Regions from separate parts of the Homo sapiens genome. Here region 1 is linked to region 2. A link means that fine-mapping ties the variant in region 2 to the expression of a gene that starts in the linked region. Tissue or cell type: minor salivary gland. Region 2 holds a variant in brackets; the other region holds the start of a gene. All regions are shown on one strand. Distances are from middle to middle.

Region 1 (8,110 bases), 27 kb after region 2:
ATTTTGTTCATTGCTGTATCCCTAGCACCAAGAGCAGTGTCTGGCATATATCAGAATTCATATGATTGTTGAATAAATAAGTAGCTAATTCATCTATGAAAATAGCATTGGATCTGCAAGAAATTTTTATAGAAAAATAACCTATAGAAACTAATGGGGCATAAAGGATTAAGCTATAATACTAAAAGTACAAGGGGGAATGGGGAGTAGTTTTTAACAGTATATATAGCAAGTACATGGTACCCAGGTTTCTGTTCGATAGGGACACATTTTTTGTTCCATCATTAAGCAGGTTGTTTTTCTTCAGAAAAAAGATTTAAAGTTCTTTGCTTTCTATACACAGCAGGCAAAACATTGAGCCTTCAGAATAAAAATAGATAATATACTCAATAAAGAACACCATGTACAAAAATCAACTCAAAATGGATTAAAGACTTAAATGTAAGATCTGACACTGTGAAAGTACTAGAAGAGAACACAGAGAAAAGGTCCATCATATTAGGCTAGGCAATGTTTTTTTGGACATAAACCCAAAAGCACAGGCAACAAAAGCAAAAATAGACAAATGGGGTTACATCAAACTAAAAAATTTCTGCACAACCAAGGAAAAAATCAACAGAGTGAAGAGATAACCCATGGAATGGTAGAAATATCTGAGAAGTGATTAATATCCGGTAAGTGATTAATATCCAAAATACATAGGGAACTAAAACAATAGGGGGAAAACAAATAACTGTACTAAAAATGAACAAAGGACCTGAATAGACATTTCTCAAAAGAAGACACACAAATGACCAACACATATGTGAAAAAATATTCAACATCACTGATCATCAGGGAAAATGCAAGTTAAAACCAAAATGAGCTATTACCTCATACCTGTTAGAATAGCTATTATCGAAAAGATGAAAAATAAGTGTTGGAGAGGATATAGAGAAAGGGGAATGCTTGCACACTGTTGGTGGGAATGTAAATTAGTACAACCGTTAGGGAAACAGTATGAAAGTTCCTCAAAAAATTAAAAGTAAACTACTATATGATCCAGCAATCCCACTATTCGGTATACATCCAATAGTGATCTGACTTTTGTATATAATGTTCTTTATTCAGTATATTATCTTACTTTTATTCTGAAGGCTCAATGTTTTGCCTTCTGTGTATAGATAGCAAGAAAATGAAATCAGTGTGTCTGATTTCACATACTGCTGTCTGCACGCCATGTTTATTGCAGCATTGTTCACAATATCCAAGAGATGGAATCAATGTAAATGTCCATCAATGGATAAATGAATAAAGTATAAATACATACAGTATAAACACAATGAACTATTATTCAGCCTTTTGAAAAATGGAAATTGACAACATGGATGAACCCAGGAGATATTATGTTAAGTGAAATAAGCTAGGCACGAAAAGAAAAATATCATAGGAACTCACTTATATGTAGAATCTGAAAAAGTTGAACTCATAAAAGTAGAGAATAGAAAGATGGTTACCAGAGGTTGGGGGAATTCGAGGGGTTAGAAAGACGTCAAAGGATATGAAAGGGTATGACCTTATTCCTCCTTGTTAGGAGGAATAAGGTCAAGAGATCTATTGTACAACATGGTGGCTACAGTTAATAACTATGTATTGTATTCTTGAAAATTGCTAAGACAGTAGATGTTAAGTGTTCTCATCACAAAAATATGTGAAATAATACTATGTTAATTAGCTTAATTTAACTATTCCACAATATATACATATTTCAAAACAACATGTATATGATAAATATATATATAATTTTTAATTTTTTTAATTAAACATAAATTTTAAATATACATATAATAAAAATAAAGAATACCCAGTTGGGAAAGCTCAGGTACAGTAGGCAGAATAATGGCTTCCCAAAGATGTCCATGTCCTAATCTCCAGAACCTATGAATATATTGATTTTTTTTTTTTTTTTTTTTTTGACAGTCTGGCTCTGTCGCCCAGGCTGGAGTGCAGTGGCGCGACCTCAGCTCACTGCAAGCTCCGCCTCCTGGATTCACGCCATTCTCCTGCCTCAGCCTCTGATTAGCTGGGACTACAGGCGCCCGCCACCACGCCCAGCTAATTTTTTGTATTTTTAGTAGAGATGGGGTTTCACTTTGTTAGCCAGGATGGTCTCGATCTCCTGACCTCGTGATCCGCCCACCTCAGCCTCCCAAAGTGCTGGGATTAACAGGCGTGAGCCACCACGCCTGGCCATGTTGATTTTTAATAGCGTTGAAATAGCGAAGGGGAATTAAGGTTACAGATGGAATGAATCAACTGACCTTAAAATAGAAAGATTACCCTGGAATACTCAGTGAGTCCAGTGCAATTACAAGAATCCTTAAGTGTGAGAAAGGCAAAAGTGAGCGTCAGCATAAGACATGAGAAACACTTTACCGGCCATTCCTGGCTTTGAAGATGGAGGAAGGGTCCATGAGCCAAGGACTGTAGCAGCCTCTAGAGACTGAAGGAGGCAAGGAAATTGATTCTCCCTTAGAGCCTCCAAAAAGAACCATCCATTTGGAAACCTGCCCATCCATTTTTACTTCTGACCCCCAGAACTGTAAGATAAAACTTTATGTTGTTTAAAGCCACCACCATTGTGGTAATTTGTTACAGTGGCAACAGGAAATGTACACACTCAGGTTAAAAGAAAACAGAGCTGCAGAATCACATAACTCCTGGCAGATCTTCGGAGCACATGTTGGTTGGGACTGGTTGTGAGGGTTTGGGACAGGTGGGAAATAGTTTCTGCCAGAGAAAACTGAAATACATGCAATGCTCAACTAACTTGTGCATAATTAAAGACATTAGTTGTTAAAGGGTTGAACTGTACACCCTCTCAAAATTAATATGCTGACATTCTAACCCCCAGTAACTCATAATGTAACTTTATTGGGAGATGATAGTGCAGAGATAATCAATTAAAATGAGGTAATTAGGATGGACCCTAATCCAATAAGACTAGTGTCCTTATAAAAAGGGGAAATTCAGAGACATATATACAGGGAGAACACCATATAAACATCAAGACAGCCATCTACAAGCCAAAGAAAGAGGCCTGGAATAGATGCAGGCTTCATAACATGTTAGTTTTGGATAGCCAGCCTACTGAACTGTGAGAAAATCATTTCGTTGTTTAAGCCAGAGGTCACCAACACCCGGGGCGCCGACAGGTACGGGGTGCACAGCAGGAAATCAGAGGCAGGTGAGCCAGCAAAGCTTCATCTGCATTTACAGCCACTCCCCATCGCTGTCATTGCCTCCTGAGCTCCTCCTCCTGTCAGATAAGCCACGACATTAGATTTTCTTTCTTTTTCTTCCTCTTGTATTTTTGGTAGAGATGGGTTTCGCCAAGTTGCCCAGGCTGGTCTCAAACTCCTGAACTCAGGGCGATCCACCCACCAACTCCTCCTAAAGTGGTGTGATTACAGGTGTGAGCCACCGTGCCCACTAGCATTAGATTGTCATAGGAGCGTGAACCCTATTGTGAACTGCTCATGTGAGGGATATAGGTTGCGAACTCCTTATGAGACTCTAATGCCTGATGACGTAAGGTGGAACAGTTTCATTCTGAAACCATCTCCCGCCAACCTCATCGGCATCTGTGAAAAAAATTGTCTTCCACAAAATCAGTCCCTGGTGCCTGGTGCCAAAAGCCATGCAGTTTGTGGTACCTTGTTACAGCAGCCCTAGCAAACTCACACAGTAATGGAGGCACTGAACGAAAAAGTATATGATTTTCATTGAAGCAAATACTTCATGATGTCTCATTGAAAGACCTAGCTGCCCCCTAGCTAGCTGTCAGTGGAGATTCCGGTGCATTGAGGGGGAAAAACCAGGTAGACAGCACAGAGTTCTGTTTCCAGGTGTATTTCAGTTGAGCTGTGCTGCACATTACAGTAACTCGACTCCTTTATTGCCACTACTTCCCACCGAGTGGGAAGGAAGTGTGGTCTCATAGGTATAAGAAACTCCAATGTGGAGAGGACCCATTACAGAAGGAAGCAACAATCGCATAAATGAAAGAAAGAAAGGGGGGATGAAGGGTTGATAGAGAAAAATGAAAGAGGAAAAAAGACATTGAAAAGAAAACAGAGGCTAAAATGGTGAAACCCCGTCTCTACTAAAAATACAAAAAAATAAATAGCCGGCCGTGGTGGTGGGAGCCTGTAATCCCAGCTACTTGGGAGGCTGAGGCAGGAGAATCGCTTGAACCTGGGAGGCGGAGGTTGCAGTGAACCGAGATCGCGCCATTGCACTCCAGCCTGAGTGACAGAGCAAGACTCCCTCCCCCACTCCCCACCCCAAATAAAAAGAAGGAAAGAAAACAGAGATTCAGTCAACAAGGGATAGCACATCAGGCTGTACACTTTTAAAGCATGGTTATTGATATCTCATTTAAATATCGCAACAACCCTGGAAAGTAATTACCGTATTTATGCTTTGCAGATGAGGAAGCCGAAGCTGAAAGCAACGATTCCATGGTCTGAAAGGCTATGCAGTCCTCTGACAAGTAATTCCTGTAACCTCATTCTTTCCCTTCCCCCTCTCCTGATGGCCCCCTCTCCAGGAATAAACAGAGGTCCCCCATTCCTGGGTTTTCTCATGTTTCTCTCTGCACCAAATCTGCTGAGTCAGGTTTACTCCCTTATCATATAGAAACACAGAAGCCAAACCCCACAAGATGCTGGTTCCGAAGAAACACAGGTTAATTCACTTGGTGATTTCTGTTTGTTCACATAAACACCCGTTCCGCTCCCAGCCTCTTCCCTTTTTCTCCCTCCCCAACTGCAAAGTCCTCCCCCAGCTGCCTCGCTGCCATTCCCTTCCCACCTTCTTTACCCTCCCCGCCGCGCCCGCCCCCCATACCCCGTTCACTACCGTGTCCCTCCTCTGGTCACTCCGGTTTCCGATGGCACCGGCCCAGTCGGAGGGGAAATAATGACAGGGTTGGGTAGGGCAAGGTGTGCCAGCCTCAAGGAAATGCTTTTCAGTCCCTCCTTCCCACTGCGGGGCGTGGCTGCCGGCAAAGGATGGAGTTCGGGCGGGCTCCCGCGAAGGGAAGTCTGCGGGCTCCGAGGTTTCCGGGACTCGCCACACTCGAGCCACAGGAAACCTCTGCTGCAACTGTAAAGGCTGGACTTGTTGCTGATCTATACTCATTTCCTACTCTAGTGATTGCTAGATGTCAGGTATCACGGTGACTCCAGTCCAGGTGAAAACGGAGTCACGATACAGGGCAACAGCGCCACCTCACGGCCGGCCCCGTAGCAGCGGCCTCCATTGGCGCCTAAAAATGGTCAGGATTCACATTCAGGTGGATTATTCCGCGCCAGGAACATTCTCCACCTGAAGGCTTTGCCGGGGTGTTACAAGATAATACTGAAGGGACGGGAGTGGTGGCTTACGCCTGTAATCCCAGAACTTTGAGAGGCCAAGGCGGGTGGATCACCTGAGGTCAGCAGTTCGAGACCAGCCTGGCCAACGTGGCGAAACCCCGTCTCTACTAAAAATACAAAAATTAGGCGTGATGGCGGGCGCCTATAATCCCAGCTACTCAGGAGGCTGAAGCAGGAGAATCTCTTGAACCCAGGAGGCAGAGATCGCATAGAGCCGAGATTGTGCCACTGCATTGCAGCTTGGGCGACAGAGCAAGACTCCGTCTCAGAAAAAAAAAAAAAAAAAAGAAAAAAAAAAGTACTGACCACTGCGGAGACGTGGGGGAACCTATAAGGAATTAATGAGAATTAAAACCCCAAGATTACGTAATAGATCATTCATTTAGAGCCCGCGCGCGCGCGCGCGCGCACACACACACACACACACACACACACACATATATCCCATTATGTCCTGGGTTCTCCTCTGGGGAAACAGTGAACAAGGTAGTTATGTTACCCGTCCACATGGAAACTAAAATAATAGAAAATACTTAAGACAATAGATAGCTGAAGGAATTCTGTTAGATATTAACACCTAATACAAATTCAATTAAAGAAATAAGAGTCATAGGTAACTTGAATATGTGACCAATTTATTCAGCATTGAACGCATACCAAACACAAACTGACAGTCATTAGAGCAAAAAGAACTTGAGTCAATGTAATGTGGCATATTTAGAGATTGAGGTATGTCAGTTCTCTAGAGCTTTCTCTATTGGCATTTTCACTTCCTTCAGGGCTTTTTAAAAACAGGATGAATTGTACTTAATGCCACTGAACTGTTCATTTTTAAATGGCTAATGGTTGATTTTATGTTATGTGAATTTTACCTCAAAAGGGGAAAGGAAGACATCTCATCAGTTAGTTGTTCTTTAGATTCTTTATGTCATAAGTGATACATCAAATCCAAATGAACTGATTGGAACTTCATATTATGTAATTTTCTACTCTACCTCCCCAAGCATGCTCCTCCATGACAGATAAAGTGGTTTACTCATTTTTAAAATTTCTGCAATGTATTGCTAGATACTCATTCTGATGCACAGAATTTTGTCTAAAATCTAGTTACTATTATAGAAATAGAAGTTAAAAAAGAAACCAAAATACAATCCAGAAAGGGGAGGCAAAATTTTTCTCTCCAATTTTTTTGAGCAAATCACATAAATTATACATTAAAAACATTTTGAGTTAGAGAAAACACTGGAAATGATAATGCCCACACACAGAAACAACTAAGTACCAAATAGTCTGAGTTACACAGCAGACATTCACCAGGAGTTATATATGTATAGCTAGTCCCACACATTATACTCATTAATAAGATGGTTAGAATATCCATTATTTCTCTTTTTTCTTCAAGTTTTCATTCCCTTGTAATTTCAATTATTACCTCCATCTCAAATTTATAAGCCTCCAACTCATTGTCAACAATGCTTTGGCCCCAGTGTTTCTACCAGATCGTTATTTCTGCCTCATTATTAATTCCATAGGAATTTGTTGAATGCCCATTATCTCTCTGTCCAGATTAAGTACTGAACGGTAGTGGGAAGTCACACTGAAATATACACTGGAGATCTCTTCCTTCTCCAGTTTAGCCTACATGAATCCTAACTGCCAGATCCTGCGCTCCTCTAAACTGTTAAAGCCATCCATCCATGTGTTACTTAGTATATTCCCTCTTGTATGATTCTGCAGTTGTGAGGAAGGAATCTACTGGTTTAGTGGGGTGGAATCTATTTACGGAAGGCATGGAGGAATTCCTGGAAAGTCACTCATTATAAGAAAAAAGAAAATCAAAGCACAAAGGTATTTTCCACTAACAAGAATAGCTTGGGGTTCAGCGCTGGGTCTGCATCTCAATGTCCTTTGGCCAAGCCCGTATGCAATAACAGAGTCCTAGTGAGAGGGGACTCTCAAGTACAACTGGTAGAGTTATTTCACAGAAAAATACAACAGCAACAACAAAACCGTATGAGACCTTGTGTACACAAGGTAGCTTTGCTTTGGAACTGTTTTCAAGGGAATATAACACAAAAGCGGGGCAGGTGAATTCTTCCAACTTTATCTGGAAATGCAGTTCAACTTTCACAAAAGGGCAAGCAGTGGCTACCAGTAGGAGATAGCTCCACATGGGCCTGAGGCTTACCTGAAAGGCTTGCACTGGCACAGAGGATCAGAGTCACTCTGATGAAAATTATAAACAAAGTCAGCAGTAGAGTCACTGCTGCAGCAATGCCTGGCATGTAAATGGAGTTCCCAGGCATTTAGAGAACAATAGACATCACCAGAAGAAATCTAAGACAAGGAAAAGAGTGGATTCTATGTAGCCGCTAGGGTTTGGGATTGTGAAAATTTATGAGGTCCTCTACTATCTTGAGGATCTTCAGGGACAGTTGGGGAAAAGATCTTTTAAGAAACAACAGAGGTTCTGCAACCAACTAAAGGCGGCGACAGAGTATGGGAAATTACTATTCATATGACCTCATGTTTAACCCTGGTTGGTATACCCTAGAGAATATTGATCATTGGTAAGCTTCCATGTATATGTTGTTTCTTTTTACCTTATATATTAGTTTTCCATTGCTAACATAACACATTACCACACACTTAGTGGTCTAAACAACATAAATGTTTTATTTTACAGTTCT
Region 2 (8,110 bases):
AGCTGTATCAATCAGGTAAACATGTATAACCAAAAATAACAAAATGAAACAAAAAATCTTTTATCTAAATATTTATAATATTTGTGCATGTAAGTATACTCTATGCACAGAGAGGGAGTTAAAGTAATCAAAAAGTTAATGCAGGATTTAAAACTTTTTATACTTCAACTAGGTGTCATTTGATAGCAGAAATAGTACAGCTGCCAGTAGATATCTGAATTTAACAATCATGTTGAGAAAGAGAGATTTAAACCAGATAAATCAAATAGCATAATGCTGTAAAGTAAGGTACAGAAATGGAAAGAATGCTAGATAGTGGTATGGTATTCATCAGGGAAAATATATCAGCACCTGCCTGATTTCTTCTGTCTCTAAATTTTTCAGCTCCTTGTACTGGTTCCGCTGATATCACTTATATGCTGGCTAATTTCCACCCAGATCCTGAACCAATTCTGACGGGGGCATTACGGAGATCAGCAGTCTCAGTCCTCTTCATCCTATTTATCTTACATACTCTCCAATTTGGGGAAGATGTAGCCTTTATCCACTTCCCCAAATCTGCCCACTTACTCATGCCTATTAACAAAACCCTCTCAAATCTGGAGCCCTCACCTGAATGCCACACAAGTCGATGGGGCCGTGTTGTCCTCTCTTTGCCTAAATCAATCCTAAGTGAGATTGAAATTTTACTTTATACTCTGATTACTGAGCTCTTGCTACTAATATAAAAGCCTCCCAGATAAATGCAACCACAATGGTTGAATGCCTCTTTACTGACCATCATCCTGCTCCACTCTACTTCATTCCTATTTCATTCACACCCCTGAACCCATTACCTTTATGTTCTGCTGGCCACACTGAAAACCTGAGTTGCTAATTCTTGCCTGAATTTTGCTCTGTAACTGAACTGTCCATTCAAGACAGCTCTACTTCTTCCACTTCTACAATCTAGTTAGTTTATCTCACATCATTCCTTGGGGGGCCAGCCTTATACCAAGTCATTCACTCAGATGTTAAATAATTAATCATAAAAATTATTAAATATGTTTTGCTATGAAGGAGAAGTTTAGGGTGCTATAAAAACGGGGCAATAGGAAGGAAGTCAAAAAAAGTTTCTTTAAGTAAACAGTATTTAAGCAAATGATAAGTAGGAGCTGACTAGATAAAGGTGGGCACAGCCACAAGGCAAGAGAGGAGGAATATCCAGGCCTTGGATGGGAACAGAGCTTGATACATTCTCATAACTGGAAGGTCAGTGGGCCTGGACAGTAACAAGAGAGGAGAAAACACGAAGAGATGGCACTGTGCAGGTAGGCGAGAGGCAGATCATAATGAGCCTTTAGGCCATGCTAAACATTGCTTGTTTTATTCTAAGTATCACTGAAGTGCTTTAAATAGAGTGACATGGTCCATTTTGTATTTTAGAAAAAAAAAATTATTTGGAATACTACTTAGCAATAAGAAGGAACAAATTATTCCTACATGCAACACTTAGATGGAACTTAAGGACTTTATGCTGAGTGGAAAAAGCCAGTCTCAAAAGGTTACATGCTGTATGGTTCCATCCGTATAATATTTCCAAAATGGCAAAATTAGAGAGACAGAAAATAGATCAGTGTTTACCAGTAGGAACAGGGAGAAGGTGTGACTTTGAAGGGGTAGCATGAGGGAGTTTCTTTATGGTGACAGACAATTCTGTATCTTGACTGTGGTGAAAATTACATGAGTCTATACATGTGATAAAATATCAAAGAACTATGCACAGAGAGGAAAAAGATAATGTGTGAATGCAAAAACTGAAATCCCAGGAAACTCTACATTCTAGTTCATTATACTGTGCCATTGTCAGTTTCATAATTTGGATAATTTACTACAGTTATTTAGATGTTCCCATTGGGAAAATTGGTAATTGTTACATTGGATTCTATACTATTTTTGCAACTACTTGTGAACCTTTAATCATTTCAAATTGAAAAGTAAAAATGAGTATTAGTTTTGCAGCAATTGAGTAATAAATTGCAGGTGATAATAAATACATACGAGAATATCAATTGTGAAACTAATAATTTCATAATCATTTTTTGGATTACAGTAGTGACAGTAAAAAAAAGAAAAATAATGGATTGGAAACCTTGAGGAGATTGAACCAACAGGACACAGTGGTTGTAGAAGGTAAGAAGGAGAAGGAGAAATCAAAGAAGAGGAGATGATGAGTTGTTCTGGACATTTTGATTTAAGATGCCAGTGTGACTTTTAAGTAGAATATTAGAAAAAAGCATTTGGTTGTACAGTTCTTAGGATTCATAAGGGAAGTCTGGACCAGAGATAAATATTTGGGAGTCATTAGATAATATTGAAAGCTTGAAAGTGAATAAGAGAGAAAGAGGAAAAAATGAACAAAAAGGAAAAAGAGAAGAGAGGAAAAGAGGGCCTAGGAAAGAATCCATGGAGTTCCAACGGATAAGGGCTACATGAAGGAAGAGGAATTGGGGTCCAGGGGGAAACTCAAAGAGGGCCTAAGAAGGAAAAACTAGAGAAGTAAAAGGGGAACCAAGAGTTTGTGCTGTTGTGGAAGCAAAGGAGAGGGGCATGGACAACAGCTGGGCTAAAATCTGATGACAGGTCAGGAAAACAATAAGTAGCAGATACAGGCAACATGGAGGTCACCCATCATAGAAAGAATAGCTATAGTGCAGTGGCCAGAGAGCAGGGTGGTTCTGGGAATGAATAGGTGGTGAGGATGTGGAGAAAATGTGTTTAGGGGGCTCTTCTATGATCTTTGCGACCTATATGAATGAGAGGACTGAAAAGAGGAGTTCAGAGAGAGATTTCACAGTTGATTTCTTTGGAAACTTAGGGCTCCAGCAAGATAAGAAAGGGAACTGGTAATACCCCAACATGCAGTAATCTCTCATTCTAAAAAAAACAAAGCAAAGTTTGGTATGGAGAGGCCTGTATCAGGCATAAATGTTTTACAAAGCCTAAACACACACACCCACACACACTGAAAAACAGAGAGATAGATTAATAGAACACATAAGTATCCCAGAAAAAGAGACACATATTTAGGACTTTAATATAAAGAAGTCAGCAAGAATCAAAATAAGCAGATGAGTGGTTCTCAAACCAGAGAGCACATTAGAATCTCCTAGGAGGCATTTTTAAAAAATATCAATCCTG[A/G]TGTTCATTTCCCACTTGATATGGTTTGGCTGTGTCTCTACCCAAATCTCATCTTGAATTCCCATATGTTGTGGGAGGGACTCAGTGGGAGGTAATTGAATCATAGGGCCAGGTCTTTCCCATGCTGTTCTCATGATAATGAATAAGTCTCACAAGATCTGATGGCTTTATAAGGGGGAGTTTCCTTGCACAAGTTCTCTCTCTTTGCCTGCCACCATCCACGTAAGATGTGACTTGTTGCTCCTTGCCTTCCACCATGATTGGGAGGCCTCCCTAGTCACTTGGAACCGTAAGTCCATTAAACCTCTTTCTTTTGTAAATTGCCCAGTTTCATGTATGTCTTTATCAGCAGCGTGAAAATGGATTAATACAGTAAATTGGTACCAGGAGTAGGGTGCTACTGAAAAGACAGCCAAAAATGTGGAAGTGATTTTGGAACTGGGTAACAGGGAGAAGTTGGAACAGTTTGGAGGGCTCAGAAGAAGACAGGAAACTGTGGGAAAGTTTGAAATTCCCTAGAGACTTGTTGAATGACTTTGACCAAAAGGCCGATAATGATATGAACAATGAAATCCAGGCTGAAGTGGTCTCAGATGGAGATGAGAAACTTGTTGGGAACCAGAGCAAAAGTGACTCTTGTTATGTTTTAGCAAACAGACTGGTGGCATTTGCCCCTGCCCTAGAGATCTGTAGAACTTTGAACTTGAGGGAGATGATTTAGGGTATCTGACAAAGAAATTTCTCAGAAGCAAAGCATTCAAGAGGTGACTTGGGTGCTGTTAAAGGCATTCAGTTTTATAAGGGAAACAGAGCACAAAAGTTTGGAAAATTTGCAGCCTGACAATGTGATAGAATAGAAAATCCCATTTTCTGAGGAGAAATTCAAGCCAGCTGCAGAAATTTGCATAAGTAACAAGGAGCCAAATGTTAATCACCAAGACAATGAGGAAAATGTCTCCAGGGCATGTCAGAGACCTTTGAGGCAGCCCCTCTGATCACAGGCCCAGAGGTTTAGGAGGATAAAATGGTTTCATGGGCTGGGCCCAGGGTCCCTCTGCTATGTGCAATCTAGGGACTTGGTGCCCTGTGTCCCAGCTGCTCCAGCTGTGACTAAAAGGGCCAAGGTACAGCTTGGGCTGTTGCTTCAGAGAGTGAAAGCCCCAAGCCTTGGCAGCTTCCATGTGGTGTTGAGCCTGTGGGTACACAGAAGTCAAGAATTAAGGCTTGGGAACCTCTGCCTAGATTTCAGAGGCTGTATGGAAATGCCCAGATGCCTATGCAAAAGTTTCCTGCAGGGGCGGGGCCCTCATGGAGAACCTTTGCTAGGGCAGTGCAGAAGGGAAATGTGGGGTCGAGCCCCCACACAATGTCCCTATTGGGGCACCACCTAGTGGAGCTACGAGAAGAGGGTTACCATCCTCCAAAACCCAGAATGGTAGATCCACCAACAGCTTGCACCATGTGCCTGGGAAAGCTGCAGACACTCAACACCAGCCCATGAAAGCAGCCAGGAGTGGGGCTATACCCTGTCAAGCCTCAGCAGCAGAGCTGCCCAAGACCATGGGAACCCCCCTCTGGAATCACCATGACCTGGATGTGAGACATAGAGTCAAAGATCATTTTGGAGCTTTAAGATTTGACTGGTCTGCTGGATTTCAGACTTGTATGGGGCCTGTATCCCCTTTGTTTTGGCCAATTTCTCCCTGTGGAACAGCTGTATTTACACAATGTCTATATCCCCATTGTATCTAAGAAATAACTAACTTGCTTTTGATTTTACAGGCTTACAGGTGGAAGTGACTTGCTTTGTCTCAGATGAGATGTTGAACTGTGGACTTTTGAGTTAATGCTGAAATGAGTTAAGATTTTGGGGGACGGTTGGGAAGGCAATATTGGTTTTGAAATGTGAAGACATGAGATTCGGGAAGGGCCAGGAGTAAAATGATATGTTTTGGCTGTGTCCCCACCCAAATCTTATCTTGAATTCCCATGTGTTGTGGGAGGGACAAAGTGGGAGGTAATTGAAACATGGGGGCAGGTCTTTCCTGTGCTTGTGAGAGTGAATAAGTCTCACGAGATCTGATGGTTTTATAAAGGGGAGTTTCCCTGCACAAGACAGTTCTCTCTCTTTGCCTGCCATCATTCACATAAGATGTGACTTGCTCTGCCTTGTCTTCTGCCATGATTGTAAGGCCTCCCCAGCCACTCAGAACTGTAAGTCCATTAAACCTCTTTCTTTTGTAAATTGCCCAGTCTCAGGTATGTCTTTATCAGCAGCATAAAAACGGACTAATACACCACTCCTCTTAGAGATTATGATGATTATAAACCCCATAGATTATGACTTCAGATATCAGCTTCAATCAAGGAAATGCTTCCCAGGAGATACTAACATACAGCTGGGGTTGAGAAGTACTAAGATAGATTATTCATCAAATGGAATTTAGGCAATGGACTACTTGTTTGATAACAAAAATTATATTTTTGATTCACCTGTACACAAAATAAATTTTGGGAAAAAAGCTAGATGCTTTAAGAGACATAAAAAACTTAACATTATAAATTATATTGGGTTTGTGATAACTTCCTAAGCTTAAACAAAAAACTTTCTTCCAACAGAAAAAAAAATCACAATGGAAACATCAATCAATAAACAAATAAAAACATAGTACTTTTATAGTAATGAGAAAACCACTAATATGCCAATAAATAAATAGTCAAAAACGTGAAAAACAAAAGTAAATGAGTTCACTGAAACAAAATGTTTAACAAATATGGAAGCATGTTGAACTAAGATGAAAGATTTTTATCTTAACTAGTAATTTTAAAAATACTTTAAAATAAAACAAGATACATTTTTTGCCAATCCATTTAAGACAAAATATTATTTATTTATTTATTTATTTATTTTTAAATTTTTTGAGCTGGGGTCTCACTCTGTTGTCCAGGCTAGAGTGCAGTGATGTGATCTTGGCTCACTGCAGACTTGATCTCCCGGGTGGCTAATTTTTAATTTTTTTGTAAAGATGGGGCCTTGCCATGTTGCCCAGGCTGATGTAAAATTCCTGGCTTTGAGTGATCCTCCCACCCTCAGCCTCCCAAAGTGCTGAGGTTATAAGTGTGAGCCACCACACCCAGCAGAAAAGAAGATTTGAAAACTAATGTTTATTCCCTAAATAGTTTTATTTAAAAATGACTCTTGTAAGACTGACAAGGAATCTGAATGTCTACATTTATGAAAAATAACTTGGCACTATGAAAATTGAGAGCCTGAATGGCATTCATAATTTTGACTCTGTAATTTCTCTCCCAAATGTCAATTATATGTATGTTTTTTAAAAATGGAAGATGTTTCTGAACACACAAGAAAATCTGTGACCCTTATTTAATTTTTTTGAAAATATAAATAGGGATTTGCTTCAAAATATAATTCATGGACTTGAAGGAGGAGAAATAGGTGGAGATGTAAATAAAAAAAAATCAACCATGTGTTCAAAATTGCCAAATTCAGGGGATATACATGGGAAGTCATTGTACTATTTTTGCTGCTTTTGTACATATTTGAAATTTTCTGGAAAAAAATTAAAAATAGAAAAAATAACTAATTTTCATCAAAAGGAGGGATGTTTCAAATTATTTTTATACAGTTGGACCATGGAATACTACACATTTATTAAATTTACGTTCACAAAAATGTTTAATAAACAGCAATTTGTAATGTTAGTGGGTTAAGTAAAAAGGCACATTTTAATGAGGTATATATGGCAAGAGTACAATGAAATTGACTGGGAAAAACACCTGTGTAGGGGAAGCCCAAAGAAAAATATATTAGAATGTTACAGCAACAGTGATGATGGTTACTATTAATAATTTTTTCCTCTATTTTCTATTTTCCAAATGGAATGAATTAAGCCTTAGTTATTTTATAATAAGAACATGCAAAGGAAGAAAGGCTACAAGGCAGAAAAGTTTGATAGCAGAAATACAAAAGAAAATTGGCTGATGGTAACAAAAAAAGACCAAGAGGGAAAACAATCTTCCTAAAGAACTAGTGTTTAGAATTAAAGACAAAGTACAACCGTTAAATCAAGATTAATGGCTTCAGGCCGGGAGCAGTGGTTCACGCCGGTAATCCCAGCACTTTGGGAGGTTGAGGCGGGCGGATCGCGAGGTCAGGAGATCGAGACCATCCTGGCTAACATGGTGAAACCCCGTCTCTACTAAAAAATACAAAAAAATTAGCCAGGCGTGGTGGCGGGCCCCTGTAGTCCCAGCTACTCGGGAGGCGGAGGCAGGAGAATGGCATCAACCCAAGGCGGAGCTTGCAGTGAGCCGAGATCGCACCACTGCACTCCAGCCTGGGCAACTGAGGGAGAGAGAGAGACTCTGTCTCAAAAAAAAAAAAAAAAAAAAAAAAAAAAATCTTGAGTTTAACAAGCTTCATTGTTGCTTGCTAAAGGCATTATCTTGCCGACCTGGGAGAAAGCCAAGTTGGGACTCCCAGGAACAAAGTTAATGTATCATCTCCATCCAACTGTAGTAAAGGAGAAAGAATAAAAGAACCAGTGTCAGAGTTAGGGGTGGATTTATCTTAATCTATTGAAGCCTTGGTTTACTAACCTATACAGCTGAGATAATTCTGCCTGCTTACATCAGAGGATTCTAGTGAGAATTAATAAGAAAGTAAAATTGTTCTTCAGTGATAGTAGCTAAAAGTGCCTCTTCTAGCAAGAATTTATTTGTATAACATAATTACTTTTCAAATCAGTGGTTCCAACTTTGTGCTCCTGATCAAGCTTCCCTTTTTGATTACTACTGCCCCACCCCAGTGGTCTGAAGAGAGTGTGGCTTTCCTTCAACGCATTAGCATAAATGTAGCTAAAATTTCTTTCTTCTTAGCACAGACACAATAAAATGAGAGTTGCCCAAA

What was found. PIP is the estimated chance that this variant, and not a neighbour inherited with it, causes the effect.
Region 1: STYK1 starts here. The variant in region 2 is fine-mapped to the expression of STYK1 in minor salivary gland (GTEx, PIP above 0.99).

What each region holds. Positions count from the first base shown.
Region 1 is chr12:10,669,064-10,677,173 of GRCh38, forward strand. STYK1 (serine/threonine/tyrosine kinase 1) reads right to left here and starts at 4,989. Exons shown (of 11, transcript NM_018423.3): 1 at 4,903-4,989.
Region 2 is chr12:10,642,547-10,650,656 of GRCh38, forward strand. All of the region lies in intron 1 of STYK1 (serine/threonine/tyrosine kinase 1), which reads right to left. Among named protein-coding and RNA genes, the nearest start is that of STYK1, 27 kb to the right of the region's middle. The variant A/G (reference allele first, on the strand shown) is at 3,181.